Linked DNA regions of Homo sapiens. The protein of the gene in region 4 purifies or fractionates together with the protein of the main gene of each other region. This does not show direct contact. Each region holds a gene or a part of one and is shown on either strand. Other genes may lie near its edges.

The links.
Region 1: the proteins of ZNF219 (region 4) and MTA1 purify together in Homo sapiens (affinity purification with mass spectrometry; 3 studies listed by BioGRID and IntAct, with this or other methods). This does not show direct contact.
Region 2: the proteins of ZNF219 (region 4) and CHD5 purify together in Homo sapiens (affinity purification with mass spectrometry; 4 studies listed by BioGRID and IntAct, with this or other methods). This does not show direct contact.
Region 3: the proteins of ZNF219 (region 4) and CHD3 purify together in Homo sapiens (affinity purification with mass spectrometry; 5 studies listed by BioGRID and IntAct, with this or other methods). This does not show direct contact.

The regions. Positions count from the first base shown.
Region 1 is NC_000014.9:105,422,674-105,430,088, reverse strand, and holds part of MTA1 (metastasis-associated protein MTA1), read right to left. Parts: intron 1-7,415. UniProt on the Homo sapiens protein: Transcriptional coregulator which can act as both a transcriptional corepressor and coactivator. Acts as a component of the histone deacetylase NuRD complex which participates in the remodeling of chromatin.
Region 2 is NC_000001.11:6,101,085-6,107,534, forward strand, and holds the end of CHD5 (chromodomain-helicase-DNA-binding protein 5), read right to left. Parts: intron 5,696-6,450; coding exon 5,532-5,695; intron 5,426-5,531; coding exon 5,311-5,425; intron 5,204-5,310; coding exon 5,196-5,203; 3' UTR 5,150-5,195; intron 4,344-5,149; 3' UTR 703-4,343; downstream 1-702. UniProt on the Homo sapiens protein: ATP-dependent chromatin-remodeling factor that binds DNA through histones and regulates gene transcription. May specifically recognize and bind trimethylated 'Lys-27' (H3K27me3) and non-methylated 'Lys-4' of histone H3.
Region 3 is NC_000017.11:7,898,429-7,905,843, reverse strand, and holds part of CHD3 (chromodomain-helicase-DNA-binding protein 3), read right to left. Parts: intron 7,349-7,415; coding exon 7,249-7,348; intron 6,834-7,248; coding exon 6,642-6,833; intron 6,502-6,641; coding exon 6,301-6,501; intron 5,949-6,300; coding exon 5,811-5,948; intron 5,555-5,810; coding exon 5,433-5,554; intron 5,287-5,432; coding exon 5,113-5,286; intron 4,993-5,112; coding exon 4,851-4,992; intron 4,601-4,850; coding exon 4,469-4,600; intron 3,235-4,468; coding exon 3,117-3,234; intron 2,978-3,116; coding exon of another isoform or gene 2,967-2,977; exon of another isoform or gene 2,908-2,966; coding exon 2,783-2,907; intron 2,573-2,782; coding exon 2,341-2,572; intron 2,020-2,340; coding exon 1,853-2,019; intron 1,403-1,852; coding exon 1,225-1,402; intron 745-1,224; coding exon 679-744; intron 224-678; coding exon 138-223; intron 1-137.
Region 4 is NC_000014.9:21,095,342-21,103,000, reverse strand, and holds the start of ZNF219 (zinc finger protein 219), read left to right. Parts: upstream 1-4,345; 5' UTR 4,346-4,689; intron 4,690-7,659. Other genes in the region: TMEM253 (transmembrane protein 253), read right to left, coding at 222-368, 486-596, 881-937, 1,026-1,136, 1,550-1,657. UniProt on the Homo sapiens protein: Transcriptional regulator. Recognizes and binds 2 copies of the core DNA sequence motif 5'-GGGGG-3'. Binds to the HMGN1 promoter and may repress HMGN1 expression. Regulates SNCA expression in primary cortical neurons.

The DNA.
Region 1 (7,415 bases), about 84 Mb from region 4:
AGAGGAAAAGTTCCTGAAAGAAACTAAAAGTGGGTCGGGCGCAGTGGCTCACACCTGTATTCCCAGCACTTTGGGAGGCCAAAGCAGGTGGATCACTTGAGGTCAGGAGTTTGAGACCAGCCTGGCCAACATGGTGAAACCCCATCTCTACTAAAAATAAAAAAATTAGCCAGGCATGGTGGTGTGTGCCTGTAATCCCAGCTACTCGGGAGGCTGAGGTGGGAGAATCACTTGAACCCGAGAGCTGGAGGTGGCAGTGAGCCAAGATCGCACCACTGCACTCCAGCCTGAATGACAGAGCGAGACTTGGTCACCAAAAAAAAAAAAAAAAAAAAAGGCCGGGCGCAGTGGCTCACGTCTGTAATCCCAGCACTTCGGGAGGCTGAGGCAGGTGGATCACAAGGTCAGGAGATTGAGGCCATCCTGGCTAACATGGTGAAACCCCGTCTCTACTAAAAAAATACAAAAAATTAGCCGGGCATAGTGGCGGGCACCTGTAGTCCCAGCTACTCGGGAGGCTGAGGCAAGAGAATGGCGTGAACCTGGGAGGCGGAGCTTGCAGTGAGCCGAGATCGTGCCACTGCACTCCAGCCTGGGTGACAGAGGGAGACTCTGTCTCAAAAAAAAAAAAAAAAATTAGCCGGGTGTGGTGGTGGGTGCCTGTAGTCCCAGCCACTTGGGAGGCTGAGGCAGGAGAATCGCTTGAACCCGGGAGGCGGAGGTTGCAGCGAGCCGAGATCGTGCCACCGCACTCCAGCCTGGGCGACAGAGCAAGACTTCATCTCCAAAAAACAAAAAGTGCTGCTCCAGTGAACACAAGCCTGATAAGACAGCTGAACGGCCTTAGTACTGATAGAGAGAAAGCTGAAGTGCCGGGATGGGAAATCAAAGCGGACACATTCCCCGAAGCCAGAGCCCCAGCCTGAGCGAGGCCCTAACTCCCTTCAGTTCTACGAAGGCTGAGGGAGGTGAGGAGGCTGCAGAAGAAAAATCTGAAGCTAGCAGAAGTTGGCCCATGAAGTTCAAGGAAAGAAGCCATTTCTACCACATAAAAGTGCAAGGTGAGGCTGGGCACAATGGCTCATGCCTGTAATCCCAGCATTTTGGGAGTCAAGGCAGGAGGATCACTTGAGGCCAGGGGTTTGAGACTAGTGTGGGCAACATAGTGAGACCCCATCTCTACAAAAATAAATAAAACTAGCCAGGCATGGTGGCGTATGCCTGTAGTCCTAGCTACTCGGGAGGCTGAAGTGGGGAGGATCACTTGAGCCCAAGAGACTGAGGCTACATACAGTGAGCCAAGATCATACCACTGCACTCCAGCCTGGGCAACAGAGCAAGATGTTGTCTCAAAAAAAGAAAAAAAAAAAAGAAACACTTCTTTTTGGTTTCTGTAGAAATTAACAAGCCAATTCTAAACTCTGTAAGGGAAAGCCAAGTAACCAGAACAGGCTAAACAATTTTGAAAATGAGGAACAAAGTTCAAGGATTCCTACTACTTGATTTCAAGAATTACTATAAGGCTGGGCATGGTGGCTCACTCCTGTTACCTCAGCACTATGGGAGTCCGAAGTGGGAGGATCGCTTGAGCCCAGGAGTTCGAGACCAGCCTAGACAACATAACGAAAAACTTAGCTGGGTGTGGTGGTGCACACCTGTGGTCCCGGCTGTTCAGGAGGCTGAGGTGGAAGGATCACTTGAGCCTGGGAGGTGGAGGCTGCAGTGAGTCATGGCTGTACCACTGCACTCCAACCTGGGTGACAGACTGAGACCTTATCTCAAAAAAAAAGAAAGACGCCAGACTCAAAAGCCCACATGCTGTGCAATTCCACTTCTACCACATTCTGGACAAGGCAAAACGGCAGGAACAGAAAATAGGTCAGTGTTGCTGGGAGCTGGGGGAGAAGAGGGGGCTGACTACAGAAGGTCACAAGAGAAGCATGTCAGGTGTGGAAGAGCTGCAGCGACCACACAGCTGTGCATGAGTGGAAAACCACAGGCCCCTACACATAAGTGGGTTTGCCATGTGAAACGTGTATCTCAATAAACCTAACTTTTTTTTTTTTTTTTTTTGAGAGAGTCTCACTCTGTTGCCCAGGCTGGGGTACAGTGGTGCGATCTCCACTCACTGCAACCTCTGCGTCCTGCACGCAAGTGATTCTCATGCCTCGGCCTCCCAAGTAGCTAGGATTACAGGCACGCACCACCACGCCTGGCTTTTTTTGTATTTTTAGTAGAGATGGGGTTTTGCTGTGTGGTCAGGTTGGTCTCAAACTCCTGAGCTCAAGTGATCTGCCCACCTCAGCCTCCCAAAGTGTTGGGATTACAGGTGTGAGCCACCATGCCCGGCCTAAACCTTACTTTAAGTTAAAAAAATATACACGCACCCAGAGTCAATTCTCATTGTTTGCAGTAATTACGTTCCATAAAGTCACCACTAATACTGAACACCGTACCTCTGTTCCTACAGGAAATACAGGGTCAGGTTCCTACGAGCCTCTGGTCACAACATTTTCAGCAACCAATCAATACGCAACAGCCTTATTTTACGTTTCTGTCAAAGAACTTTATAATTATTATTGTTCTCCGACACTGAACTCACGTGGGGCAGAGCCTGTCCAACACACGTTCTCTCCATGGGACCCATCCCAGCCTGCCTGTGTCCAGGGACACTCAACAGCACTGCGGCACCTCCCCCAGGGGCATCTAAAAAGCAAAATCACCAAGAGCCCCCAAATGCAAGAAGCATGGCCCTCAGTAGATGGAGAAAGGACAATTTGCTTCCAACATGGGAGCAGTGGCAGAGGGCAGGGTGCCTCGCTCACCCCAGCAGGCACCCAAGCACCACGCAACTTGGGCTTTTAGCAGCCTGTGCGTGCCCGCAAATGACTGGGAAAGTGACATAAGTGTGAATTTTGGGGTTACACGTAAGTTTTAACAAATAGGGGATGGGGCCACAGAAGAATTGGGGGAGAACAGACACAACCCCCAAGATCATTGAGCAACAAGAGCTGTGCGGCAGGGCGGTGCCCGTGGTCCCTGCCTGTCCGGGACCCTCCAGGGCACAGCCCACTCTCCTGAGCTCACCCACAGCCAGGTCTGCCATGGTCAGAGACAGGAGACCAGGGAGCACAGAGAGGAACTTTGTCTTTTCCCTTTTGGGAACAGAGTCAAGAGAAACAGCAACAGTGGTCAGGAAAGCCCCCAGCACCCCTGCTCCAGGAGCCGGGTCTCCATGTGACAACGTCCCAAATGCTGCAGGGGTGTCCTGTATTTTTATCTGCAAAACCTGGGCACTGCTGCAAGCCTCGCGCCCGGCCCATCCTTGGGGTCATCCTCCTCCGTTGCTGTCCCCACAAAGTCCAAGAAGGATCGGAGACCAGAGCCCCAGCATCCGAGGTGCATCCGGCAGTCAAGGGATGGGGACAGCGGCCCCCAGGGGATGCAGACAGACGTTCCCTCATGCAAGTGGCCAGATGGCCCAGGCACTGTGTCTCCTGGAGGAATGGGACAGAACACGCCCCTCCCTCAGAACTGCCCTAGCCCAGCCCAGAGAACGCCACACCTCAGGGCCAGCCCCCACGTGCGCTGCGCCCTTGCTGTCCTCTGAAGGCAGGGGATGAGCCAGGGCAGAATCAGGTGTGCCCCATACCTGACTCCACCGCTGACCAACTGCACAGGCCTTGAGGCTCTTTTTTTTTTTTTTTTTTTTTGTGAGACGAAGTCTCGCTCTGTCACCCAGGCTGGAGTGCAGTGGCGTGATCTCGGCTCACTGCAACATCCATGGGCTCATTTTTAAGGTATGCTTGGTACCAGGAGCCGCTGCCGCTGCCCTGGTTTCCTCCCCTGTGACGACGCTGCTGTGAGGACAGCCTGGCAGGGCACGGACGGGAAGGGACGCGTGGTCCCCTCCATGCCCCAGGGGTCCCCCAACCGCACAGATCTGCAGACCCTCCTCCTAATGGCACCCACAGAGCTCAGGCCCTGACCGTGAAAGGGCTCTGGGGGCAGGCGGGCACTCGAGCTCCTCAGGCCACCGGGCAGAGAAAGCAGCAAAGCCCACGCCAGGCCGGATCACGGGGCTGCAGTGCTGAGGCCCGCCCCAGGGAGGCTGCCGGGCGGCTCTGAGGAGCGGTCACCTCAGACCCCTCAGGTGCGCTGCATGGCCCAGGCGGGAGCAGCCTAGAGGGTGGTGCAAAGCCCATAGAAGCAAGCCTTGGGGCCTGGGCTCGGGGGTGCCGGGGGCACATTGGTGGGGCGGGTGGGGTATAGGGGCGAGGTGCTGGGTGGCCTTGCACTATGAGGGTGGCCCCAGCCTCCCTGGGCTTGGCTCCATCGCCACCAAGATCCCCCAGTCCGCACACTCAGACATGAGCCCACCGGGACAGGAATGGAGCAGGCCAGCTGGGGTGGGGGTGGGGGTGGAGACACCAGCAACACGAGAGCCCCAGAAAGCAGTGAGCCCAGGTAGCACACGAGGAAAGACATTTGGAGAATATTAAATGCTCTGCCGGGCATGGTAGTTCACAGCCTTGCAAACCCAGCGGCACTTTGGGAGCCCAAGGCAAGAGGATCGCTTGAGGACGGGAGTTCGAGACCAGCCTGGGCAACATAGTGAGACTCCGCCTCTATAAAAAATCTTAAAATTAGCTGGGTATGGTGGTGTGCACCTGTGGTCTCAGCTACTCAGGAAGCTGAGATGGGAGGATCGCCTGAGCCTGTGGGGTGGAGGCTGCAGTAGCTGTGATGGTGCCACTGCACTCCAGCCTGGGCAACAGGAGACCCTGTCTCAAAAAAAACATAATTACATGCTCCCAAGACAGCCTGCTGGAGTCTAAGGTAGGGTCTAAGCTGCCCCCCAACCAGGTCTCAGGGTGGGCTCCTCCTGGGGAAGGGGGGCCACCCTCCCTAGCAGGACTCAGCCCATAATCTGGCAAGAGCACTCCAAGTTCAGCAGGAGGAGGAAGGAGGCCCTGCAGCCAGTGCTCCCCCAAGCCGCCTCCCGGGTACCTGGCCAGGCACACGGCACCTCCTCTGGCATCCCAGCCTCACCTGCTGACCAGCGTCCAGATGCGCAGCTGGGGACCCACCTCTAGGTAGGATGCCTGCAGGGCCACTGCAGCAGTTTTGACACCCAGAACCCACACACACGGGCGGGAACGGCACTGCCAGGGCGGGTCGGGCGCGAGGGATGTGCTTCATTGGACCATATATTCCAACATCTCTCACTGACAGCTACTTTTTTATTATTCTGAGAGCTTAACGATCAAATTCTCCACTCAGAACAATATGGGGCCAGGCACCGTGGCTCACGCCTGTAATCCCAGCACTTTGGGAGGCCGAGGCGGGTGGATCACTTGAGGTCAGGAGTTCGAGACCAGCCTGGCCTAGATGGTGAAACCCTGTCTCTACTAAAAACACAAAAACTAGCCAGGTGTGGTGGTGCACACCTGTAATCCCAGCTACTCAGGGGGCTGAGGCAGGCAAATCACTAGAACCCAGGAGGCGGAGGTTGCAGTGAGCCGCGATTGTGCCACTGCACTCCAGCCTGGGTGACAGAGTGAGACTGTCTCAAAAACAAAAAAAAAAGCCAGACGCAGTGGCTCACGCCTGTAATCCCAATACTTTGAGAGGCTGAGGCGGGTGGGTCACAAGGTCAGGAGATCGAGACCATACTGGCTAACACAGTGAAACCCCGTCTCTACAAAAAAAAAAAAATTACAAAACATTAGCCAGGCATGGTGGCGGGCGCCTGTAGTCCCAGCTACTTGGGAGGCTGAGGCAGGAGAATGGTGTGAACCCGGGAGGCGGACTTGCAGTGAGCCCAGATTGCGCTACTGCACTCCAGCCTGGGGGACAGAGCGAGACTCCGTCTCAAAAAAACAAAGGTGGAGCAAGCCAGGAGTGCTCAGTGGCTGAGGCAGGAGAAGCTCAGTGGCCCATCCTGCCTGGAGAGTGAGCCAGGGCTGCCAATGGCGCAGTGCTGAGGCCGATCCTCACAGGCCAAGTGGGACAGCCCCATGCCATCCCCTCCAGGACATCACACCTGGGCCCCTGCCACTTCTACCACTCCCGCTCCTGGTGCTCACAGGACGGCCGTGTCTCCAGGGCTCTTCCCTGCCTTCTTGGAAAAGATGGGTGGGACCCCAAAAGTCGGCCCATGGAGCAGCAAGTGCCTAGGGACACGGTGCACTCAGCACTCCAGGGTAGGGCGGCGCTGGCTGCAGCCCTCTACAAATCTGACATTTTTTTTAAGTTTACTTTTTTCCCCACTGGCAAGTATATAGAGCAATAAAGTTTAAACTTCAAAAAAACACTAGAATAAAAATACAAAAGCAACATTTCTAACAGCGCGCCAGAGCGCAGATGATGGCACATGCCAAGCCCAGTGAAGACCAGCAGCACGGACAGGGTGCTTCCGCCCAGGCTGCGCCAGAGACCGGGGCAGAGCCCGCGGCCCTGCAGGGGCAGGGGCTTTCTGGCATCCTTTCAAACTACATTAAAATTTTTTTTTTTTGATACGGAGTCTCACTCTGTCACCCAGCCTCAACTTTTATTAAAATTAAAACAAAAAGGCCGGGCATGAGCTCACGCCTGTAATCCCAGCACTTTCGGAGGCCGAAGCGGGTGGATCACTTGAGGTCAGGAGTTCCAGACCAGCCTGACCAACATGGAGAAACGCCGTCTCTACTAAAAATGTAAAACTTAACCAGGCCTGGTGGCGCCTGGCTAGTCCCAGCTACTTGGGAGGCTGAGGCAGGAAATCGCTTGGGCCGGGGAGGCGGAGGTTGCAGTGAGCCGAAATCGCGCCTCTGCACTCCAGCTTGGGCCACAGAGCAAGACTCCATCTCAAAAAAAAAAAAAAAAAAAAAATTAAACAAAAAAAATCCAAAAGATGGGGTGTTAACCTCTTGCAATGAAAAACAGAAACACCCAAGGCAAAATGGTAATGGCCTGTCCACTGAAAAGCAGAAGCCCCACATGAGCAAGCTGCAGGCGGCTGGCAGGCACCGATTCCTGCTGTCCTGTTTTGGATGCTATCTAACATCTTCATGTTCAACCCAGAGAAGAAACATCCCGCCGTTGCCCTGGGGCCCTCTCATCCCACAGCAGGTTTCAAGCCTTCCCCAGCCCTCGGGATGGACAACCCTTGAGAAGCAGAGGTCAGGGAACCCTGACCCCGCCACCCTTGCCCAGGCCATCCGCTGCCCTCACAGGCACAGACAGAAGGCCTCTGTCCGTGGCCAGGGCACTCCATGGGGAAGAAACAGGCCCTGTTCCCTCCCTGCTCACCACTTCACCCAGCTCAGCTGGCACAAAAATACTGCCACCACACCTTCACCCTGCCTAGCCCAACCTGGCAGGGCCTCGGAGTAGCCTGCCAGCTAAAATACGGGTTGCCCAGATAACTGTGA
Region 2 (6,450 bases), on a different chromosome or scaffold from region 4:
AGAGACTGTCCTATGCCTCGAGCTTCCAAACGAGACTCAGACCGCGACACAGCCACCGTATTTATGGAATGACAAAATAAATAAAGCCCAAACCCATCGGTCTCTGTGACTTTTTGCTCCTCTCATTTCCTCAGGGTCAGGGCTGGGCCAGGGTGACACGGGAGGGGAGGAAAAGGCTGCCAGCAGCAGGGCCTGGGGCATCCCCCAAACCGGAGCCTGCAGCCAAGGGCAGGTGGGTTGGAAAGGGCCCGTGGAGAGAGAGCGGGGACAGAGAATGGGGACAGGGTGGTCAGAAGACCTGTCCCCCATCTCTCCCAAGCGATTCAGCCAAGGGAGGGTGCGTGCCTCCCCTGCCGCCCCCAACACACACATTCTCTTTCACCAACTCTGAGGGCCCAAAGCTGCTTGCTGGGAGGCTGCTGTCCCTCTGGGGACCTGGCTGGCTGCTGTTCTCATAAGGACAGAGGTCCAGGCCTGGGGAAGCTCTCATGGTATGTGTTTGGGGTACAGGTGAGAGGGGCCTCACCCCAGCACACCCCTGTTTCGGGCTCCCCTCCTTCCCAGTGAGCCCCTGCACCCGTGAAATGACCATCCCAGGCAAGAGAAGGCTTCCGGACACGCCCCCACCCCCCACCACTCCTCCCTGGCCCCAGCCCCCACCCCCATTCTAAATCTTGAATCTTAAAAAGAAAAAGCCTCTGATTAAATCCTTTCCCAAAGGATTTATTAAAACACAGAAAACCAAAACATACACACAGAGTACAAAGTAAAGGTGATTGTGTTGGCTACAGCCTCTGTCCAGCCTCCCGTGGGCGAAGACCAGACAAGCCACGGCTCACAGGGGAGCCTGGCTTCCAAAGCTGGACCCGCCCCCGCCGGGGCCACCCTGGCTGGGACTCCTGGCGCGCCTTGCACCCAGCCCAGGGCCCTCCCTTTGCCAGCCTGGGGCTGTGCCTGGGGAAAGGGGTCGGCCCCCTCTTAGCTGGGCCTGGGCCGGTGGAGTCTGCTCCCTCCACACCCCTGAACTCAGACCCCACGGGCCAGTGGGGACCCTCCCTTCCTCTCCAGGGGTGCTTGGGCTCCAATCGCTGCTTGAGGAGTTCAGGACACACACACACACCCAACGGGCCCTTTCTGGGTTATCGCACCTAAAAAAATACTTTGTTTAAAAAAAAAATCTGAAAATTAAAGAAAAAAAAAACACAACGCCAGTGAGTTTGGGCTGATGCACCACAACCTGTAAACTTTCAGACACAGAAAACAGGACAGGAACCAGCTGCCGAGGCCGAGGCGGGCCTTGCACAGAAGAGACTTGGGGGAGGGGCCGAGGCCAGGTCACCAAGACGGTGAGGGCAGAGGGGCGTGCCAGCCTCGGCCCCCACCCACGCCCTGTCCCCTGCCCACAGACCCTGACGCACACTGGAGGCTCCAAGTGACCGACACTTGACCAAGTCCATCTGGCTTCTGGCTCCCATGTACCCGAGCCCACTCTCCACTCCACCTCCTTGGGCCTCAAGTGTCCTGGGATGACAGGAGTGAGGGCTGCAGGTGTCACCGGGCCAAGGCTTGGTCAGCTCCTGACCTCGGCAGGGGAGCACCCGGGGGACTCTGGGAAGGCAGCCCCCAAAAGCAGGAGGACTTCAATCATAGGGGGCAGGGAAAGTCCAGCCTGCCCCTGGGGGAAGCCAAGTTTGCAAAAAACGCAGGAGCTTCGGAAGGTGGCTTTCACGGGGGACGCTGCTTCTGCCTCAGGCGTGTATGAGAGGGCCCTGCAGACGTGCTCACTCCACCCCGAGTCACCTGAGCCCATGGGGCAATGCCTTCCAAGACCTTGGCTCAAACATGGCTCTGCAGAAGCCCTACTCAGCACTGGCTTAAAGTGGCTGGAAATTTCCAATCGCAGACTGGCACTTTGGGCTCGCGTTCATGCCCGAGGACCCTGATTCTACCAGCAGCAAAAACCAAACCCAGCCCAAAGACGCCAAACATACGGACACCACCATCACCACTTTTGGCAGAGATGACTGACAAACCAAGAAGGACATTCTCAGATCTTTTCTCCTCTCCCAAACTGGTCAGCCCCAAACCCGCTCTGACTCTAGTAGCCCACCCCTCCCGGGCCCCGGGGTGCTGGCCACGGACAGCACCACCCCTTCTGGACCAGGCAGTGCAGGGGGCCCAGGCCCAAAGGAGCCCTGGCCAGGCTTTCCTGGGTGCCCGAGTCTAACCAGGCAGAGGAGAAGGGAGCCCTGGCGAGGCCTGGGAGGGAAGCAGAGAGGAAGGGACAGAGCAAGCCTGCCTGAGAGGAAGGCGCACAGGGGAGGGACCATCAGCCCTTGGGGTGGAGACACAGACCCCTGCCCTGACCGCCACAGGCCTCCAGTCCTGCTGCTCGGGACCTATCTGCTGTGGGCCAAGGAAGGTGGGCACTGCTCCCAACGAGGGCCAACCCCAGTGCTTGCCACTGCTTGTTTGGGGACGAGGGCACGGGAGTGAGCTTCTGACCCGAGCCAGGACCCTTTGCCAGGAGGCACCGCAGAGCACACAACACGCATGTGGATGAACCATAACATGTGAGCCCGCTGACAATCATCTCCACTCCAGGGTGCTCCCCACTACGCCCACGTGCAGTGTCAGGGTCGGGCTGGCCTTGCAGACCTGGATCCAGACTGGAGTGTGGGAATGCGCCAAGAGGAAGGACTTGTAGGTCCCGCCCTCCGGGGTTCAGAGACAGCCTCATTATGAGTGAGGCATATAGGGCTTAGGGAGGGCCAGGCAATCGCTCCAGTGTCTGCAACACAAGCTGGTGAATCCTGACCCAGCCCTGGCCCCCTCAGTCCCAGGCAGGCCCTCTCCAAGGAGCTGAGCCCCAGCCCGTGTGCACCTCCACCCCAGGCCCAGCTGGGTTTTTCACGCAGCCCTTTCCTAACATTCCCAGGATTCTGCACCCCAAGGCACCTTCCCTGGGAAGGTCCCAGTACAAGACTCAGAAACGCCTTCCAGGTCGACCTGGGGCCAGGAGAAGGATCACACACAAACAGGCCTAGGGAGGGCCTGACCTGCTCCCCATCTCCGTCCCCAACTTGGAGGGGCAGGGTCCGGGGGAGTGGGTGGGATTCCAACAACCCACATGTGGGAAGATGGTTTTGGGATGTCAGGGCGCTCCTGGCAGGAAACAAGGCAGCAAGCCCTTGGTGCTGCGGCTGGGAGGGGTCTGCAGAGGGCACTGGGTCCAGTCCCCCTCCAGGCAGAACTCTCCCCACGCCTTCCAAGAGTGCAGCCTCAGGCAAAAAGCCCCCGGGAAGGCCTTTCCAGGGACAGGGGAATGGGACAAGTCCAGGCCCCCAGGGGCAGCCCGGTTCCACCTCCGGAGGTGGGCAGGGTAGGCATCCCAGGGCACAGGGCAGGGCCAGGGTCTCCTGGGCCAGCTCAGGGCCCATGACCCTCCTTGCTGGGGCGCAGCTATCACTGCCCTTAACCACACCTCTGGCAGAAGGCAAACCCAACGCAGCAGTGGCTCCGAGGCAAGTGCTGCCCCCCCCCCAGCCCACCCTCCCTGGGATCATACGCTTCTGCCTGCTGTGAAGAGCCGGGGCCACAGGCCCCCCACTGGTAACAGAGTCCAGGGCCTTCAAGATGCGCTGGGCCGGGGACAGACACCTGCTGGCAGAGGATCCACCTCCCCACAAGGAGAGAGCAAACACCTGGCGGCCTCCAGCCTTGGCAGGAAGGAGGGGAAATGTCAGCCAGGGTCTCACCATAGGGCTGGACAGCGGCTCCCCAAACCTGCCCTGTCTGGTGCTGGGAGGCTCCAAGCGGGCAGGGGGCCAAATCAGAAGGGGCTGTCACACAGGTGCAGACAGGTCAGGTAGGGGACACTGAGGGCTCCTAGGGCACCGGGCGCCATGTCCTCCCCAGCTGGGCTGAGTCCACAGGGCAGTGCCAGGACTACCTTGGGTCTGGAACCCATCGGTAAAGAGACATCAGTGCTGCAGGTTCGAATCTTCCATACGTCATCCAACTTTTATCAAGACAAACGTGTTCAAGTCTTCAATAGGAAAGTGCAAAAGATGTACAAATAAATGAAATCTCTTCTAAGAAGTCGTCTGGAAAAGGTGGCGAGGGGGCACGTCCGGCGTGGTTGTGGGGGCAACGCTGTGTGGAAGAACACTTGAATTATGATGAGGTGGCACTTCTGGGCTCTGGCCCAGCTGAGCTGGGCCTCGTCCTCCATGTGATGGCATTACTAGGTTTCCCTTTTTGTCCCAAGGTGGCGCTGGCTCCTAAAAAGGTGGCAGCTTTTCTCTCCCATGTGGGTCGGGCAGGTGGCCCGGCAGGCGTGGCTGCAAAACGCAAATCAGTGGGTTAAGCAGGTGGGCAGTTATAGGGGGCATCAGGGTGGCACCCAACAGCCTGTAGCTGCTTCTCCACCTATCACAACCAACTATGATCGGGGTGCCCCCCAGCCATGACCTCCCAGCCACAGGCTGCCGGGCCAGGCCATGAGCTACACCCAGAGTGCCGAGAGCACCCAGGAAGCAGCAGTGGGCAGGGGCAGCCAGCCAGGAAGCCCCTCTGGAGCCTCCTCCAGCAAGACACGGTTCCCACAGGGACAGACACAGCGTAGTGGAGGCTGGTGGCCCCAGAGAAGACCAGAATGAACTGGCAGTTTCTCTGAAATAAGCCCCCTCTCCTGGCCAATAGCCCCCACAAAACCCTCAGCCACCCTCCTGGTCCTGGGCAGGAAGTGAGGGTGTAAGACAAGATGTGATGTCTGCCACCAGCAGGACAGCAGGGGCAGGACAGGGCTCCAGGCGGGGGCAGCAGTCTCTGACTTCCGCTGGGAACATGTGTGCAAATGAGAACACATGTGCACACACAGGAGCTCACCCAAGTCCACCGACCCCTTCATGTCCTGCCACCCCAGCCTCCCAGTGGACAGACACGCTGGCCACAAGGTGGTCCCAGGGCCAAGGGGGCAAGGTAGAGGGGCTCCAGGCAGGTGGGTGGCTCTCAAAGCCGCCGGAGGCAGTAAAAGCTCCAGGACTTAGGGACGGGAGTCAAGTGCAGGGGCAGGGCTGACTGTGGCCAGGCCTGGTTTGCCAGCAATGGGGTGGCGGGGAGGAACACAGCACCCAGCAGCCCTCACCTCAGCTGGAAATGAGCGCTGCAACACAGGGAAGTCTCGAGGACGGCTAGATATCTGTCAAAAAAAGAGGAGAGCCGGGCTTGCCTGACGTTGGCAGCAGCAGGCAGGCCGGGCCCGGCGGGCACCCGTGTGCATGCTGCCCGGAGCGGACGGGCACCTACCGGTCACATAGGGCCCCAGGGGCATCTGGTTGTAGTTGACAATCCCTCCCGGTCCAGGGCCCCGGAAGTTGGGCCCAAAGTTGTTGCTGTACATCTGGGAGGAGCCGAAAGCGCCCTGGAGGCAAGGACTCAGCTTCACAGGTGGTCTCAGGCCCCCCACCCAGCCTCCACCCAGGGGCACGCCAGGGGGCTCGGGCCGGGGCACACAGGCCGAGCCTGACCTGCTGGATGGTGGGGTCCCCGGCGCGGTTGGTCAGGCGGCTCAGGATGCTGCGCTCCGACATCTGCAGCCGGGCGGCCACCGGGGGGATGCGGGACAGCATGGATGGCAGCCGGGTCACGTCGGCCTTCATGTCGCTCAGCAGCTCCTCCAGCTGGTTCAGGACTGTGGTGGGAGGCGGAGGGATGGTAGGATGCAGGGATGGAGGGGTGGAGGGATGGAGGAGTGGAAGGATGGAGGGATGGAGGGGTGGAGGGGTGGAGGGGTGGAGCAGTGGAAGGATGGAGGGATGGAAGGATGGAGGGATGGAGGGGTGGAGGGGTGGAGGGATGGAGGAGAGGAGGGGTGGAGGGGTGGAAGGATGGAGGGGTGGAAGGATGGAGGGATGATGGAGGGATGATGGAGGGATAATGGAGGGAAGATGGAGGGATGGAGGAATGATGGAGCGATGGAAGGATGATGGAGGGGTGGAAGGACGGACGAATGGAGGGGTGGAAGGACGGAGGGATGGAGGGATAATGTAGGGATAATGGAGCGAAGATGGAGGGATGGAGGGAAGGTGGAGGGATGGGGGAAGATGGAGGGATGGAGGGATGATGGAGGGATGGAGGGATGATGGAGGGATGGAGGGATAATGAAGGGATGATGGAGAGATGGAGGGATGATGGTGGGATGGCGGAGTGGAGAGATGGAGGGATGATGAAAGGATGATGGTTGGATGTTGGAGGGATGGAGGGATAATGAAGGAATGATGGAGAGATGGAGGGATGATGGAGGAATGGAGGGGTGGAGAAATGGAGGGATGGAGGGATGATGGAGGAATGAAGGGATGAGGGAGGGATAATGGAGGGATGGAGGGATGATGAAGGGATGATGGATAGATGGAGGGACGATGGAGGGATGGAGCGGTGGAGAGATGG
Region 3 (7,415 bases), on a different chromosome or scaffold from region 4:
GCAAGGAGGCAATGGCGACAAATGTCTAGGGTTCTTAGGTCTTGTCCTTTCTACCTTCAGTGATCCAGGCACCAACTTCCAACCTCCTGCCCTCATGCCCTCTTGGAGAACTCAGGAACACTGGGCCCAGCTCTCACCTCAATGTTGCCCCCGACTCGGGCCAGCAGTGGAGGCAGTGGCTTATCTTTCTCATTCCGGAGCTGCCTCTTTGACTGTCTACGCCCTGAGGGTGGGGATGACATCAGTTAGCTGAGCCACCACCTCCTCTAAGCCTCAGTCCTCCTTAGCACCCCATTCCCACAAGATACACAACACAGGAACATTCCTGTCACGTTTGAGGTGCTCCCAATTCTCTCCCAAGCACTTCAGAACTACTAACCCACTAAGTCTAAAAGAACCAGTCATATTTTAAAATTAACAGCTGATATCTGACAAAGGCCCAGATTACCAGTGGGAATGGAAAATGATATGGCCTTTCTGGATCTAGCCTATGTGGTCACACACACCGAAGTTTACTAGCAGAGAGACTATGAATATTTCTTCCTTTCTGCTCATCTGCAATCGAGTTTTTCCACACACACACGAAGACTTTTTTACTTGTATAAAAACAGTGGGCTTAAAGCAAACTGGAAAATAAAACGGGAAGAGGTGAGGTAGAGTCAGGAACACAGATGCCACCTTCAGGACGTTCATCGAAGTCTTCATCCTCCTCCTCTGAACCCACCGAGTACTCTGACTGGTTGTCTGTGGGGGTGGAAAGGGCCCAGTGGTCAGGGAGGGCTCTCGGGATATGCCCATGCTGAGGCCCTTTCTGGCTGGATTCCTCCCTGCCGAGACTTGTCTACCTTTATTCTGGCCTTGGTCCTTCTGGGAACACCAGATCACTGCCCAAAGTCTGACTTGGGAGCCGCATATCCTACACCATCTCCATTCACCGCCCACCTTCAGTCTCTGGGCCCCTCTGCTTCTCCTGCAAAACCTACTCTAAGCAATGGCCCTGGGTGTCCACAGGATGCCTGTGCAACCACCGAAGAGTTTAAATCTCCTGCAAACCCACCTGGCCTCTGGGTAGTTCCTAATGACTCTACCTTATGTCTTTCCCTTTTAGCAGAGGAAGGCTCTGACTTCTAGGCTTCTCTCTTTCCCTCTAAATAGCTCCAGCCTTCAAGTCCCTACTCATCATCACTTCCCCCCTTTACTGCCTGCATCTGGGGCAGTCCTCACCTTGGTCTTCCTGAGCAGCATCATTGTAGTTAACTTGCTTGCGAACCCGCTTGCCCTTGCCTAGATTCCGGGCTAGGTCTTCCTGCTGTTGCTCATAGTGATGCCTCAGCAGCTTCTCCCAGTAGTCAGGGTCCACATTCTCCTCCTGCTTGATGATCTCTCGCTCAATTTCCTCAATCTGAAGGGCAACAGAATGAATGAACACTGGGGGTCTCCTTCTTTGCTAATCCTTCCACTGCAAGGAAATCCCTACTCTGCTGCGTCAGCCCAATCCGGTCTCCCCACTCCTGCAGCTTCGTGGCTCTGCATACATTTTCTGGACATTGCGCATGTTCCATGCCATCTCTTACCTGCAATGTGCTCTCCTCATGTTTTCTAAATCTCTCCTCTAATCCCTCTGACAGTGTTTCTCCTGCACTGTCTCAGAAGGTACCCTTCTGTGTTTACCAGTACTGTCTGTGCCTACGTTTCTCTCTGAAGTCCAGTCTCACCTATTAGACGAAGAAGTTGTTTGAGGTCCACTACTGTTTTAAGGGGGACAGACCCTCCTACTTCAAGGCTGAGTAAAGGATACTGCCTTTTGGAGATGGCCTGGGATAGATAATGTCTGGCCCCCAAAGCCTCTCACCTTGTCTTCTTCCCGCACGACGTACTGTGCCACCTTGAAGGAGCTGAGATACTCATTCATGTTCTGCACGTCAGTGTCCTCAGTTGCATCCTGGTTCCGGTCCAACAGCCGAGCGATGGCCTCATTGTCATAATGAATCACACTGCTGTCCTCCTCCTTGTTCTCCCCTGGTGAGAGGGAAAACAAACGGGAACTTTGGGTTCCAAAGTTTAGAAAGGCTGATGGGAAAGCTTCTACTCTGCGTCCTTTTCACAGGAGCCCTAGAGAAGGCTTTTTCCCCGGGAGCCAATGTTGAAAGGTTTTTGTTTTGTTTGTTTTAACCCTACAGGCAAAGAAAGAGGCCAACCTTCCTCCAAGGGCTACTAAAAGAAGGCTCTCCTTCCTTCAAAGGCTGCAGAGAAGAGTTGTTTTTCTCTCCCCAGGGGGCTGATAAGTACTCCTGAGAGAGCAGGGGCCTGCTTTCACAGAGCTGCAGAAAAGGTTCTCACCCTCGTTTTCATCCTTGAATAGCTCTTCAGTGCCAAATTTGAGAATGTCGTCAAGCTCCTGCTTGGACATGGAGCCTGCCTTGGAGCCCAGCCCAGGCCGCACAACCAGGTGTGTCAGCATCATCTTTCTCTTGGCCACTTGTGTGATTCGCTCTTCCACTGACGCGCGAGTCACAAACCGGTAAATCATCACTTTGTTGGCCTGGCCAATCCGATGAGCCCGGCTAAAGGCCTGCAGGGGCAAGAGAAAGTGGCGGGTGGGTCAGGGGAGTGGCCGGGGAGAAGCTGCCCATAGAGCTGCCTCAGGAAAGAAGGCTGCTGAAGAAGGGCCTTCTCTCCTCCCAGAAGAGATTTATTTCTGACCCCGGAACATGACACCCTCCTCCATGAACCCACATCTCCTTGCTAAATGGTGCAGGGGTTCTAGGATGCGAGTTCCCACCTGGATGTCATTATGGGGGTTCCAGTCAGAATCAAAGATGATGACAGTGTCAGCAGTGGCCAGATTGATGCCCAGGCCCCCAGCTCGGGTGGACAGGAGGAAGCAGAATTGTTGGGCCCCAGGAGCTAGGAGGTGAGAGTTGGATCAGGTTTTTCTTGTACCCGGTAGTTCTGTCCACCTGCTCCTAGATGTTCTCTGATGACAAACAACCATGCCCCCAACTCAAAGCCTAAGTTTCCAATGTCCCCCAAGCCAGTCCCCCTCCCATCCCAGGGACCTATCACAGGTTTCTCAGGCCTCCCACACCCACCAGGGACCAGTGTATCTCCCTCACCATTAAACCGATCGATGGCCTCCTGCCTCAGGGCACCCGTGATACCACCATCGATGCGCTCATACTTGTAGCCTTCATAGTCTAAGAAGTCCTCAAGCAAGTCTAACATTTTGGTCATCTAGAGCAAGAGAAAAGGATGGAGTCTGCAATAATGAGGTGGTGGGATGCTTGCTTATTCTAACTACTCCTTTACACAAACTCAACCCTAATCTTTACACCTGAACCCCTGCCCTGTCTTAAGCTCCTCATTATTCCACCTTCTTGTCACACTCTCTTTTCTTATTTTTATTTATTTTTATTTTTTTTTGAGATGGAGTCTCATTCTGTTGCCCTAGCTGGAGTGCAGTGGTGCCATCTCTGCTCACTGCAACCTCCACTCCTGGGTTCAAGTGATCCTACCGCCTCAGCCTCCCTAGTAGCTGGGACTACAGGTGTGCGCCACCACGCCCAGCTAATTTTTGTATTTTAAGTAGAGACAGGGTTTCACCATGTTGGCCAGGCTGGTCTTGAAACTCCTGACCTCAAGTGATCTTCCTGCCTCGGCCTCCCAAAGTGCTGGGATTACAGGTGTGAGCCACCACGTCTGGCCCTCTTGTCACACTCTCTTGATTTAAGATTGTTTCTCCTAAGGCAGAGGTTCTCTGAGACCCATGAAAAGGTTTCAGGGAAATCCAGGAACCCCCTGAAAATCCGTACAAAATTGTGTCATTGTATGTGCAGTTTTCTGGTGAGTAGACCCAGAGCTTTCATCACATTTCCAAAGGGTCTGTGCCCTTCACCCTCACCTGCCAATAAGATGAAGAAATAATACCAGTCCCTAAGGAGGCAGATGGCTCACCCTCCCCCTTCCCTCATGCAGCTGAAAAGGAACTAGAGCTGGACCTCAACTTCCAGCAACCTTAAGAACAGGCATCAGAGGCCAAGAATGAACTTGCTATACAGTAATCCCAGCACTTTGGGAGACCGAGGCGGGCAGATCACCTGAGGTCAGGTGATGGAGACCATCCTGACCAACATGGTGAAATCCCGTCTCTACTAAAAATACAAAAATTAGCTAGGCATGGTGGTGCACGCCTGTAATCCCAGCTACTTGGGAGGCTGAGGCAGGAGAATCACTTGAACCCAGGAAGCAGAGGTTGCAGTGAGCCGAGATCGTGCCACTGCACTCCAGCCTGGGCAATAAGAGCGAAACTCTGTCTCAAAAAAAAAAAAAAAAAAAAAAACTCTTACAGGAGGAATCTCCTCATTTGTCACACCAGAGCAGCCACAGGAAGACCGTAAGAAATTAAAGTCTGGAGGATGAGGAGAGGGAAGAGGAAGCAGATGTAAAGACAGCTAAGGGCACAGGTCACCTGCGAGAAGATGAGCACTCGGTGTCCTTGCTCCTTCAGCTTTCGCAGCATCTTCTGGAGCAGCATGAGCTTCCCAGACGACTTAATAAGTGCCCCACCCTCATAAGCCCCACTGGGGAGTTTGGGGGACTCCTGAAAAGGGAGGAGAGAGGAGGAGGAGGGGGTCAGTTGGAAACATGCCCCCATATTCTTGCCACACCTAGAAGGCCAGATGCCCGGATCCAGCTTCCACATGTTCCCAATTCCTCCTGTTCTCAGACACCCAGTCCGTGGCCTTCCAGCCCAGCTCCACCCCTGTGGCTCAATACCCACCTCCCCACTACTCCCCACCCATGTTTTCTGAGAATGGGCGTTCGATCAGCTCCCTGCTCTGTGTATCTACCATAGCAGCCACGGGAAAAAGGTATGGATGGTTGCAGCACTTCTTAAGATCCATCATGATATTAAGCAGCGACACCTGGTTCCCACCACCTCGTGAATTCAAGGCCTCAAAATTTCGAGTCAGGATGTATTTGTAGTATTTCCTAAAGGCCAGGAAAGGGGTGTAAAAGAAACATAAATAAAGGAAGCAATTATGATATTGCACTTGGAACGCTCCCATCAATCCCCAAGCCCTACTCCAGGCAGCTCGTCTTGCATCTTACTTCTGCATGGGGCTTAGCTCCACCCGAACGATGAGCTCTGTCTTGGCTGGCATGTTCTTAAAGACATCTGCCTTGAGTCTCCGCAGCATGTGTGGCCCCAGCAAATCATGCAGTTTCTTGATCTGGTCCTCTTTGGATATGTCAGCAAACTCCTCCAGGAAGCCCTCCAAGTTGCTAAGAGCCAGAAGAGAAGAAAATTAACAGGTCGGCAAGTTCCTTGCCCCTGATCTCAGACTTACCACCTCAGATTAATCCTCTACCAGCTCATTTTATCTGCTCCACCTCTCATCTCTGCCAACTACCCTTAGGGAACCACTTACTTAAATCTCTCTGGGGTGAGGAAGTTCAGGAGATGGAAGAGCTCCTCCAGATTATTCTGCAATGGGGTTCCTGTCAGCAGCAACTTATGATCTATCTTGTAACCATTGAGAACCCTGAAAAACTAAAAGATGGGGCAAGGCAAGGCAGGAAAATGGGCTTATTAGTGACAAGTGACCGACCCACAGCATCAGCCTTTCCCTGCCCCAGCTCCCATTTCACTCAGGATCAGAGGCCCCAAATCTCTGGCCCTCTCCCTCTTCCAACCTGGACGTCCTCCCAGACTACAGAAAATCCCCAGAATTTTTGTTGTTTTTTAGGACCAAGGCAAGTGGGAAGTCCACAACTTCAAGTTTTTTAGGTCTGGAAACCTCACTCACCTTGGACTGGTTGTTCTTGAGTCGATGGGCCTCATCTACCACAAGACAGGCCCAGCGGATGGAACCAAGTGCTGCCTGATCAATGGTGATCAGCTCATACGATGTCAGGAGAACATGGAACTTCACCTGTGCCTCCCTCTGCCAACATAATTATTGCCCATTCAGCTGCCACCTGACAACCATGCACCTACACCTCCAGAACCAGACACCTTGTCCTGACTGTGGCTCCCAACAGGAGCCATTACTCTGTTCTCCAAGCAGGGATTACAGACCATGGCTCCTAAACCTCTGCCCACATTTCCAGTACCGACAGATCCATGTATGCCCCTGGGAGTACCTGCCATATCTCTAGGATGGTAGTGCAGAGACAGGAGGACAGGTGGAGGAAGAGGAGAAAGGTGAGGAGGGGAATAGAGAAACTGAATTCCTGGCTGAGAAAAAGAAGTGACAGCTTTGAGGGTCTCAGAGGATATGAGGTAGAGGGTCTTACCTTCATCTTAAAAGCTTTCTTGCCCCCTTTGATGGCATTGTCCTCAAAGGAGAATTCATTCTCACGAATGATGGCCCGGCTGTCCTTGTCACCCGTGTATGTCACCACATAGAATTTGGGTGCCCACATCTGGAACTCCCGCTCCCAGTTAATGATGGTAGAGAGTGGGGCACTCACCAGGAAGGGACCTTTTGTGTGGCCCTGGGAGTCAAGAATGGGGGCAGCATAAGTCTAGGCTAGAGGCCGTATACCCTAGTCCTCTGCCAGCTACACCCCTTTATCTTCCCCCTCCCCACTTCCCCAGTCCAGGCGGTCCCCTTCAAGGTCCTAGAATCCAGCACCTCCTTGTAGAGTGAGTAGAGGAAGACGATGGTTTGTATGGTCTTGCCTAGCCCCATCTCATCAGCTAGAATGGTGTCAGTGCCCTGGGCCCAGGAGAAGCGTAGCCAGTTCAGCCCTTCCAACTGATACATGTGCAGGGTGCCTCCAGTGGCTGTGATAAACCGTGGCTGAGTCTCATATTTCACGGTAGGCTATAGAGACAAGAAGTCAGAAAGCTCAAGGAAATAGTCGGCGGCTCCTCCAGTCTTAGTCTCTTCCTCCCTGGCATGGATACCAAGTTGGATTACAATTCCCTCTACTATGGCCTGAGTTTACAAAAGTTCTCACATCTAGTCTTCAGCCCCTCCCCCTCATTCCTTAAGACAATATCCAGCAGCACCATGGGGAAGGGCCAGCTGGTGACAGAGCCACCAGTGGGCTATCTCTAGTGGCTCCTGCCCTTTCAGGCCAAAATTCTTAGCCACTCTTGGGGCAAGACTGGATGCTGAAGGAAGAGCTACTGTTCACAGAGGTTACTGAATCTCTGGGAAGTTCCATCAGTAGCCCTTGGAAAATCTTCGATCACCATCACTCCAGAAACAAGAAATGACAACTGAGAGGACTCACATCATTAGTGGGAGAACTGGGAGGCCCATCACCCTGTAGCTCCTTCTTCTTCTTCTTATACTTGCGGGGCTGGGCAGGGTCTTCCCCCATAATTAGTTCTCTGGAAAAAGAGTGGGTCTGAATGAGGCCTCATCCTTGGGAGTCCTACGCTTTCTTTTCTGAACCCA
Region 4 (7,659 bases):
TTTCCCACTCTTTTAACCTCAATCATTTGGATTCCCAGTTTCCTCTTACCCACCATTAGGGGAGAAATGTTCAAAGCCAGAGAAAGCCAATCAGTTTCATTCTAGGACCTCTTCTTTTCTCTCCTGCCCCATTATTTTCCCTTAAGTGCCACTGACCAGGATAGGCAGTGGAAAAATTAGTTGGCAGCTAGCTATTCGTGCTTTCTTCCCTGCCCCCATACCTCCTGCAGCTCTTGATAGTGCAGACTCTGGCTCCTGCAGCATCCTGGTTTCCTCTGGCTCAGCAAGAATAGGGCGTGCACTGAGACCAGCACTCCCCCTAGGGTGAAGGCCTCAGCACTGAGTTCCAGCACCAGCAAGCCAGCATGCTGCAGGTAGACAGGGCTGAGAATGCAGGGACCCCGCACCTGTTTGCCCCTGCCCTTTTCCCTTCCCACCTCCTCTTGCCTCCTTATCCTCCCACCTTCTCCTTCATTGACCAGTACCTGGGAGGAGGCAGTTGGGGCAGGCCCCAAGGCTGTCTTCATCACCTCGACCACCACCACTATGAAACCCAAGATCAAGTTGAAGGTGTTGAATATCATCATGGCCCGCACCTGCCAGTGAGCCAGCTCAGCCCTGCCCAGCCTAGGGGAGTCATTCCAACCTCAATCCCCACTTGCAGCCTAGCTGAAGACAAAACTCAGCTTCTGCTTCTCAGCCTCCAAACAGGGCCATAAGCCCTCTTAACTTTTTTGCTTTCCTCCTCAGTGATTGAGGCCAGTCAGTGGTGACAGCTGAGAGAATGAGTCAACACTTAGCCACTTACTTCCTAGGCTGAGGGTTGTAGGTGTCTGTTTTAGGGAGTGGGAGGACAGTGCTGCGTTTTCTTCCCTCTCACCTTCCAAAGGCGGGGTGCTCTGCGAAGCTCCAGAGTGACAGTCCCAGTGAGGAGACCCTGAATGGTGAGAAGGGCAAGTGTTGAGCTCTGGTCCCGTTAGGAAGGGGCCCTGGGACCTTCCACCCTCCCTTGTGGTGGGTCTTACTGAGGCTCCAGGCCCAAGAGGCAGCGCTGTGGCCATGTGACAATCAGAGTTCAGGCAGGCGACTGAGACAGCAAGGGGCACCACAACCACTGCCAGCCATAGCTGGCTCACCTGGGGGTAAGGGTAGGGTAATTGGGGAGGAACTGTCAGGGATTCCCTCCCTTCTCGTAACTCCTACCTCTTTAGAGATCAGGAAATGGGATTGAATGCAGGGTGGAGGAAAGCAGTCAACCCAGAGCAAGGACGTGATCATTAAAAATTAAGTATCATTTAATTTTTTCTGCCTCATATTGTAGTTTAGTTACTTACCTGTATGTTTTCCCCCACAAGATGGAAGCTACTTGGGAGATTAAGGGTCTTGCCTTGTTTATTTCTATGTTTTCCTCTACCCTCCTCCCATTCAGAACCTAGCTCAGTTTCTGGCACATGGTAGGTGCTCACTTAACATGGATGGATGGATGGATGGAATTGAATTGGGTAGAAGTGGACATGCTGAGACCTGGGATGGGGTAGCCTGGCCTCACCGCTAGCACCAAGAGGTGCCCACTCTGCCTGTGCCTTGCCCAGTGTTGTAGCTTTTCCAGACGAAGGCTGTGTCTCTCCTGCTCTTGCTCACCAGCTCTATCTTCCATGGCTCCTTTGCCCACAAGAATTAGGTGCTTCCTAGGCTGGGAAAAATGCGTTATAGGTTCTGTCTATTAGGAGACAGGACATGCAACAACGTATCTTTCAGCTACACCTCTGCCCACTCCCAATATCCAGGGATTTGAGGTCCAGGTCCTCACACCTACCTAGTCTGAAGCAGCTACTCCAAAGGGATGGGACCCAGCTGGGTCCTAGGTCTCCTAAGGGGCTTGATAGCTCAGAGCAGACGACAAACTTGTCCTGGCAGAGGAAGGCTGTCAGGGATGGGGTGTGGTGGGGCAAAGGTTTCTATGAAGGCCTAAGGATCTAGGGAGTGGCCCTGGGTAGATACCGGCCTCAGTTCACTCCACAAGATGTCTAGCCCGACCTCACTCTGTTCCCATTTCTCATTACCCTCATTTCTGCCCATCCTGGGTTCCTTTTCTGGTTTCACTTACCTCATCCCCATGGACACTATCACTCTGGACCTCAATTCCCCCTCATTTCCATATGATCTTACTCCTTTCTTTGGCTTCCTCCTCAAATTATGTGCCCTTCCCTAGAGATCCTACTTTCTGTCTGGATTGGTCCCCTGTCATTACTACTTGCAGCTTTGCCCCCAGACCAGGTAAGGTTGAATTCCAGGGGCTTTCTTGCCTCTCACTTTCTGGACAGTCTCCCTTCCTTCTTTCTTGAAGGTTTTACTCTGAACTGAACACTGACTCAATGGATGGGGGGGACCCTGTTTATGGTGGGGATTGTTTTTGATTCAATGATAACCTGCAACTGGACATTATCTATCTATCTATCTATCTATCTCATGGTCCTCAAATAGTGAGTCTTGGGAAGGATGCTATTGCAACAATTAATATTTTTGAGAGAGAAGGTGCCTCATAGCCAGACAGACCTGAGCTGGAATCTTAGCTCTGCTGCTTCTCCATCTGTGTGATCTTGGATACATTATTATTATTATTATTATTATATTATTGAGACAGGGGCTCACTGTCACCCAGGCTGGAGTGCAGTGGCATGATCATGGCTCACTGTAGCCAACACCTTCTGGGCACAAATAATCATCCTGCCTCAGTCTCCCAAGTAGCTGGGATCACAGGCACATGCCACCATGCCTGGCTAATTTTTAAATTTTTTGTAGAGACAGGGTCGTCTCACAATGTTGCCTAAGCTGGTCTCAAACTCCTGGGCTCAAGCCATCCTCCCTGCTTGGCCTCCCAAACTGCTGGGATTACAGGTGTGGGCCACTGTGTCTGTCCTGATAGATATGTTTTTCTACCTATTCGCACCTCAGTTTATTCACTGATAAAAGGGGGCTAACAATATGACTGTGAAGAGTTGTTGATTCAGGGTGGGTGTTTAATAACTATTAGTGGTGCTGATGAGGTCACACCGATAAGTCTGATGCCCATACACTAAAAGTGTTATTCAGAAGGAAGCTGGGGACACATTTCTACAGTCGGAAGCAGAACCAGCTGGGCCCAAATATACTCTATAGATCAAAACAAATCCCAGATCTACCTAGGTGCCCTTGGCAAGTTGCTTAATCTCTCTGTTCCCTTATCTATAAAAGGAAGTTAATAATACCAGTCTCAAGGGGTTGCTTTCAGCATGGAAGAGAGCTTAGCCCAGTACCTGGTACACAAGTGCTCAATGTTAGTGGCTATGATCATCATCACTATTATTATTTCTTGTTGTTGACGATAAGAGGAGACTGCGCCAGAAGACTCTAGAAGTTAGTACGAGGAGGGAGGCAGGGTCCTGGGAGGCAAGTGATCTTTTGTAAGCCACTCCTGCCCCATCAGTGCTGTGCCAACATCGGCGGGTCATTGTATCTACTCTTTTCTTTCCCGGGGAGTGGGAGTCACGTTTTAAAGAGATCCAGAAAACTGCTGTGTGTCTACTCCTCCTCAATTCCCACGTGCATTGATTTTATTTGGTGGCGATGTGAGATGTTGGGCTTGCACTGAGGATCCCCGAGCCTGCAGGCCACTGGGGAAACAGACTTCCTGAAGCCTCATTTTTCTTACTTGTAAATGGGGGCTAATTTAATTATAGAGGGTTATTGGAAAGATTATATACTATTAGATAGGTGAACAGGCATTCAGTAAATATTGACTAAATCTGAGTATACTACTTACCAGTTTGTAGTCTAGACTACAATCGCCTGGAAGGAAGGTACCACTTCTTTCTCATCCCTCACAGCGCTGAGCCCAGTGCCTGGCACTTAGTAAGCACTCAGTAAATATTTGTTGTATTGAAGAGCCATTAAAGTGACTTGAGGAATGGAAAATAGAATTCGAGAGGAAGGCGCAGGAATTGTTTATCAAGAACGGAAAGGACCGAAGAGTAACTTTAATAATGTTTCTTATACGGCCGACATTAACTATCTCTATAATCGCCCCTCCTCCTCCCCCAAAAGAGAGACAGAAATTGTAAGGGAGAGGCTTTGAGATAAAACCCCAGGAAGAACTTCCCGAGTCTGTGCATGTTGGGGCAGAAAGAGCGGCAGAGCCAACTCCTTCCCTGGTATGTCCGGGTTTAGGGAGGGAGGGGCAGTGCTGCTTGGAGGCTGGGGGAAGGACGAGATGACCTTTCAAAATCTCTTCCAGTCTCCTGTTGGAATCCTCTGTGCGCCCCACCCCCGCTCCCTCCCTTCCTCCCTCCCTCCGACAGCGCCCCCCGTCTCCAAACCGCCCGCACCCCGCCCCTGGCGGCCGCCTCTCGCGGCTCCCGGGGTCCCCAGCTCCCTGTCCCCGGAGCCAGAGCCCGGCTCCCGCGCGGCTCCCAGCCCCGCCGCGCCGCCCCCCGCATGCTAATGGCCGGGCCGCCTCCCGCCGCACACAATGCGGGCCAGGGCCGGGGGCGGGGGACCGGGGAGGGGGCGGGGGCCGGGCCGGGGGCGGGGGGGCCGGGGCCCGGCGCATCTCCCCCGGCCCCACGTAACGCTGACGCCCGCGCCGCCGGCCCGCCGCCCGCCGCCGCCGCCGCCGCCGCCGCCCGCTCCGCCGCCGCCCGCCCGGGGCTCGTGAGTAGCCGCTCCCCCGACTCCCGGGCCCCCCCGTCCGCCACCCGGCCCCCGCCCCCGGCCCCCTCCCCCCTCCCGGAGGGGGGGCCCGCTCAGCGCGCCCGGCTCGGAGCAGGTGCAGGGGGCGGGGGCGGGGGAGGGGCGCCGGCTCGGCCCCAAGCAAACTTCGCCCAGAGCTCCTGGGGGGGCGGGGTGGGGGTGGCGGCCTCGGAAGCCTGGAGAGCTGGGGGGCCCCAAGGGAGGGGGGGCCAGGTGGAAGAGCTGGGGGAGCAGACACCAAAGGGAAGGGCCAACGGGGGGGATGTGGCGGGGGAGGTGGCGGGTGTCTTTGTAGGGGCCCGAAGGCAGGGCGCGAGGGACCTGGGGGTGAGGGGCGGCAGAGCCGCGAGCCTGAGTGGATGTGCACCCCCCAACCCCCGGCCCAGGTAGGGCTGGTGGGGGAGGGGGAAGGAGCCCAAACTCTCTGGAAGCACGGGGTGGCGGGGGAGGGGAAAGGATGGGGGGTGCTTCCCTCTTTGCGTCCCAAACAAAGTGTCACAAAGAGCTCGGCCCGCGGCAGCAGCGGAGGCGGCTGTAACTCAGCTTTTGTTCTCCTGGCCGGGGGTAGCTGAGCCTTGGCCTCCCTATCTCCCAACCCTGCCCCCCATCATCCTTCTGGCTTATCTTCCTGGGGAGGGGTCTGGGGTGCTGCTGGAAAAACCTCTCCGGCAGGATAGCAGGTCCTACCCTACTTAGCAATCTATTTCTGGGAGGGGGATTTTCCCAGAGGCTCCCTTGATCGCCCCTACCTCCCAGTCTGAGGACCGAGGCTCACGTGGGTGCTAAGACTGACTTTTCTAGGGTCAGCTCCACTTAAAGGGACTTAGGGCTGGCTACATGCCCCTCTTTCCCAAACCCAGGTCTTCCAGAACTTTCAAAATCAAAATCGGGGTTGCGTTAGGACATGCCTCTGGGATAAGATTCCCCATGGTGGGATGGCAGCAGGTGAGCAGGTGTGCCTTCCTCTCGCCTCCTGCTGTACCTTTGAAGTCCATGGCTGAGGTTCCATGTCCCTAACTCAGGAGAGTGAGGACAGAGGGAAGGAGGCTTTACCAAGATCTCAGTCTAAAAAGGCTGGTGAGCTGCAGAGTGGAGCGGGTTAGGAGGAGCTATCTGAGCAGTGAGGTTCAGAGGGCCATGGAGAGGAGACCATAAAAGTGAACTACTGGTGTGTCTGTGTGATCAAGGTAGTCTTTTGAACGTAGACCGCCCTAGAAGCTCCCTTTCCTTTTAACCCCATCTAGTGCAGTGGTAATCATAATTGTTAGCAGATTTGGGAGGTCTAGGATTCTCAAGAGGGAAAACCATCGTGTTAGAGGTGACCAGAGGCAGTTACAACTGGACCCCAGAAGTCCTGAACCCTTGCTCCTTACACTTTGACCCTAAAAACTTTTGAATCACAAGACTTGAGGGACAGTCTTTGTGGTCCATTTAGCAAATACTTCTATGTACCTGTCCTTGTTGTTTCTAAGTCTTTTCACCAACCATTCCATCCTTCTCTACTGAGTAAGGTTTAGTGGTCCACACCCACTTCCCTACCAGCTGCCCCAGCATGTAAGGATAATTGGCCTACTGCTTTTGAAAGGTTTCTGATATCTATCCCTGGCCCCGCATCCTTATAGAATCCAAATAAGGGCAAGATAACCCCTGATTCCCAGTGGGGGTGGAAAGTAGGTCAGTGCTGCTGTCTGGCCAAGTCTCGAGGATGGTGTTTAAGGCCTGACTATAGAAAACTCTGTGATTATTGTCCAGGGGCAATATATGCATGACCTCGGTTCCAAGGCAGTTCATAGTATCCCAGTCCCTGTCAGTTCTTTCCCCTACTGAGAAAAAAATCATGGGATCAGGTGTCTGGAACCTGGTTTGATATGGAGATGATTCAGATCTTCATTGGGCCTAAGAAGGTATCTCAGTGAGTTTTGTTGATTTTAGGCCACCTTCTGGGGAAACTTTCCGTGCTGGGGAATTCAGCTTCAGTTTGGGCCTTCTTGTATATCACTCTATTTCTGTTCTGGAAACTGCTATGTGCAAAGTGGTTTATTGTTGTTTTGTTTTGGGATAGGAAGCTTTGCCCTTTTCTGACTCTTCTTGCCTCAGATATGAGGCCAGCTTCCTAAGAGATTTTGCTTGCTATCCTACAGACAGTTTTAGGGGCCCTAGAATCTTCTCAGAATGAGAGTATGTGCCCATAGGTTAGTCAGCTATGACCATGCAGTATTCCCAGCCCCCCCGCCCCACGCCTCCACCATCTGCTTCCTCTGAATATACCAGATTGGCTGTACACCAGGATGTTCCGGGAATCCCCAGGAGAGCAACAGAATGTGATGGACCCAAATATGATGCCTCAGTAACTCATTCCAGGATGTACAAACTGTAACTGTCAGGATGCTCCTTATAGCTAATTAAAATTCTTCTAGTTACATCTATTTTCTATTAGCTCTTTCTATTTTCAGTGACATCTAAAAGGCCAAAATAATCCCTCTGGTACCACTGGGTTTTTTTCTATGGTTTTCAGATAGGAACGAAAAAAAAATGCTCTAGCTTTTCTGTGTTGTATCTGCGATGCTAAAATGGCAAACAGCCCCTCTAGCACCTCATAGCTCTATCTATGGTACTGAGGTGGCCCAAGTGGCTTCTGTGGTAGCCCACTGCACTCTCCATGGTACTGAAGGGATGACCATTTGTTTTAACATCTCTCTGGGGTCCAAAAGAGTCCTGTGACTTAGAATCACAAACTTTTTTCGAGCAGGAAGGGACTAACACTATAAATTAGTCCAATCCCCTTATTTTACTGATGAGTAAACTGGGAGGTTAAGTGATTTAGTAAAGGTTGTAGGGTTATCAATGTTCAGACTAGGCCTACAATAGCCTTGTACCCTTCAGTCCTATTCTAATTCACCTTTTGTGACACTATTCAGTAAGCCTGGCTAG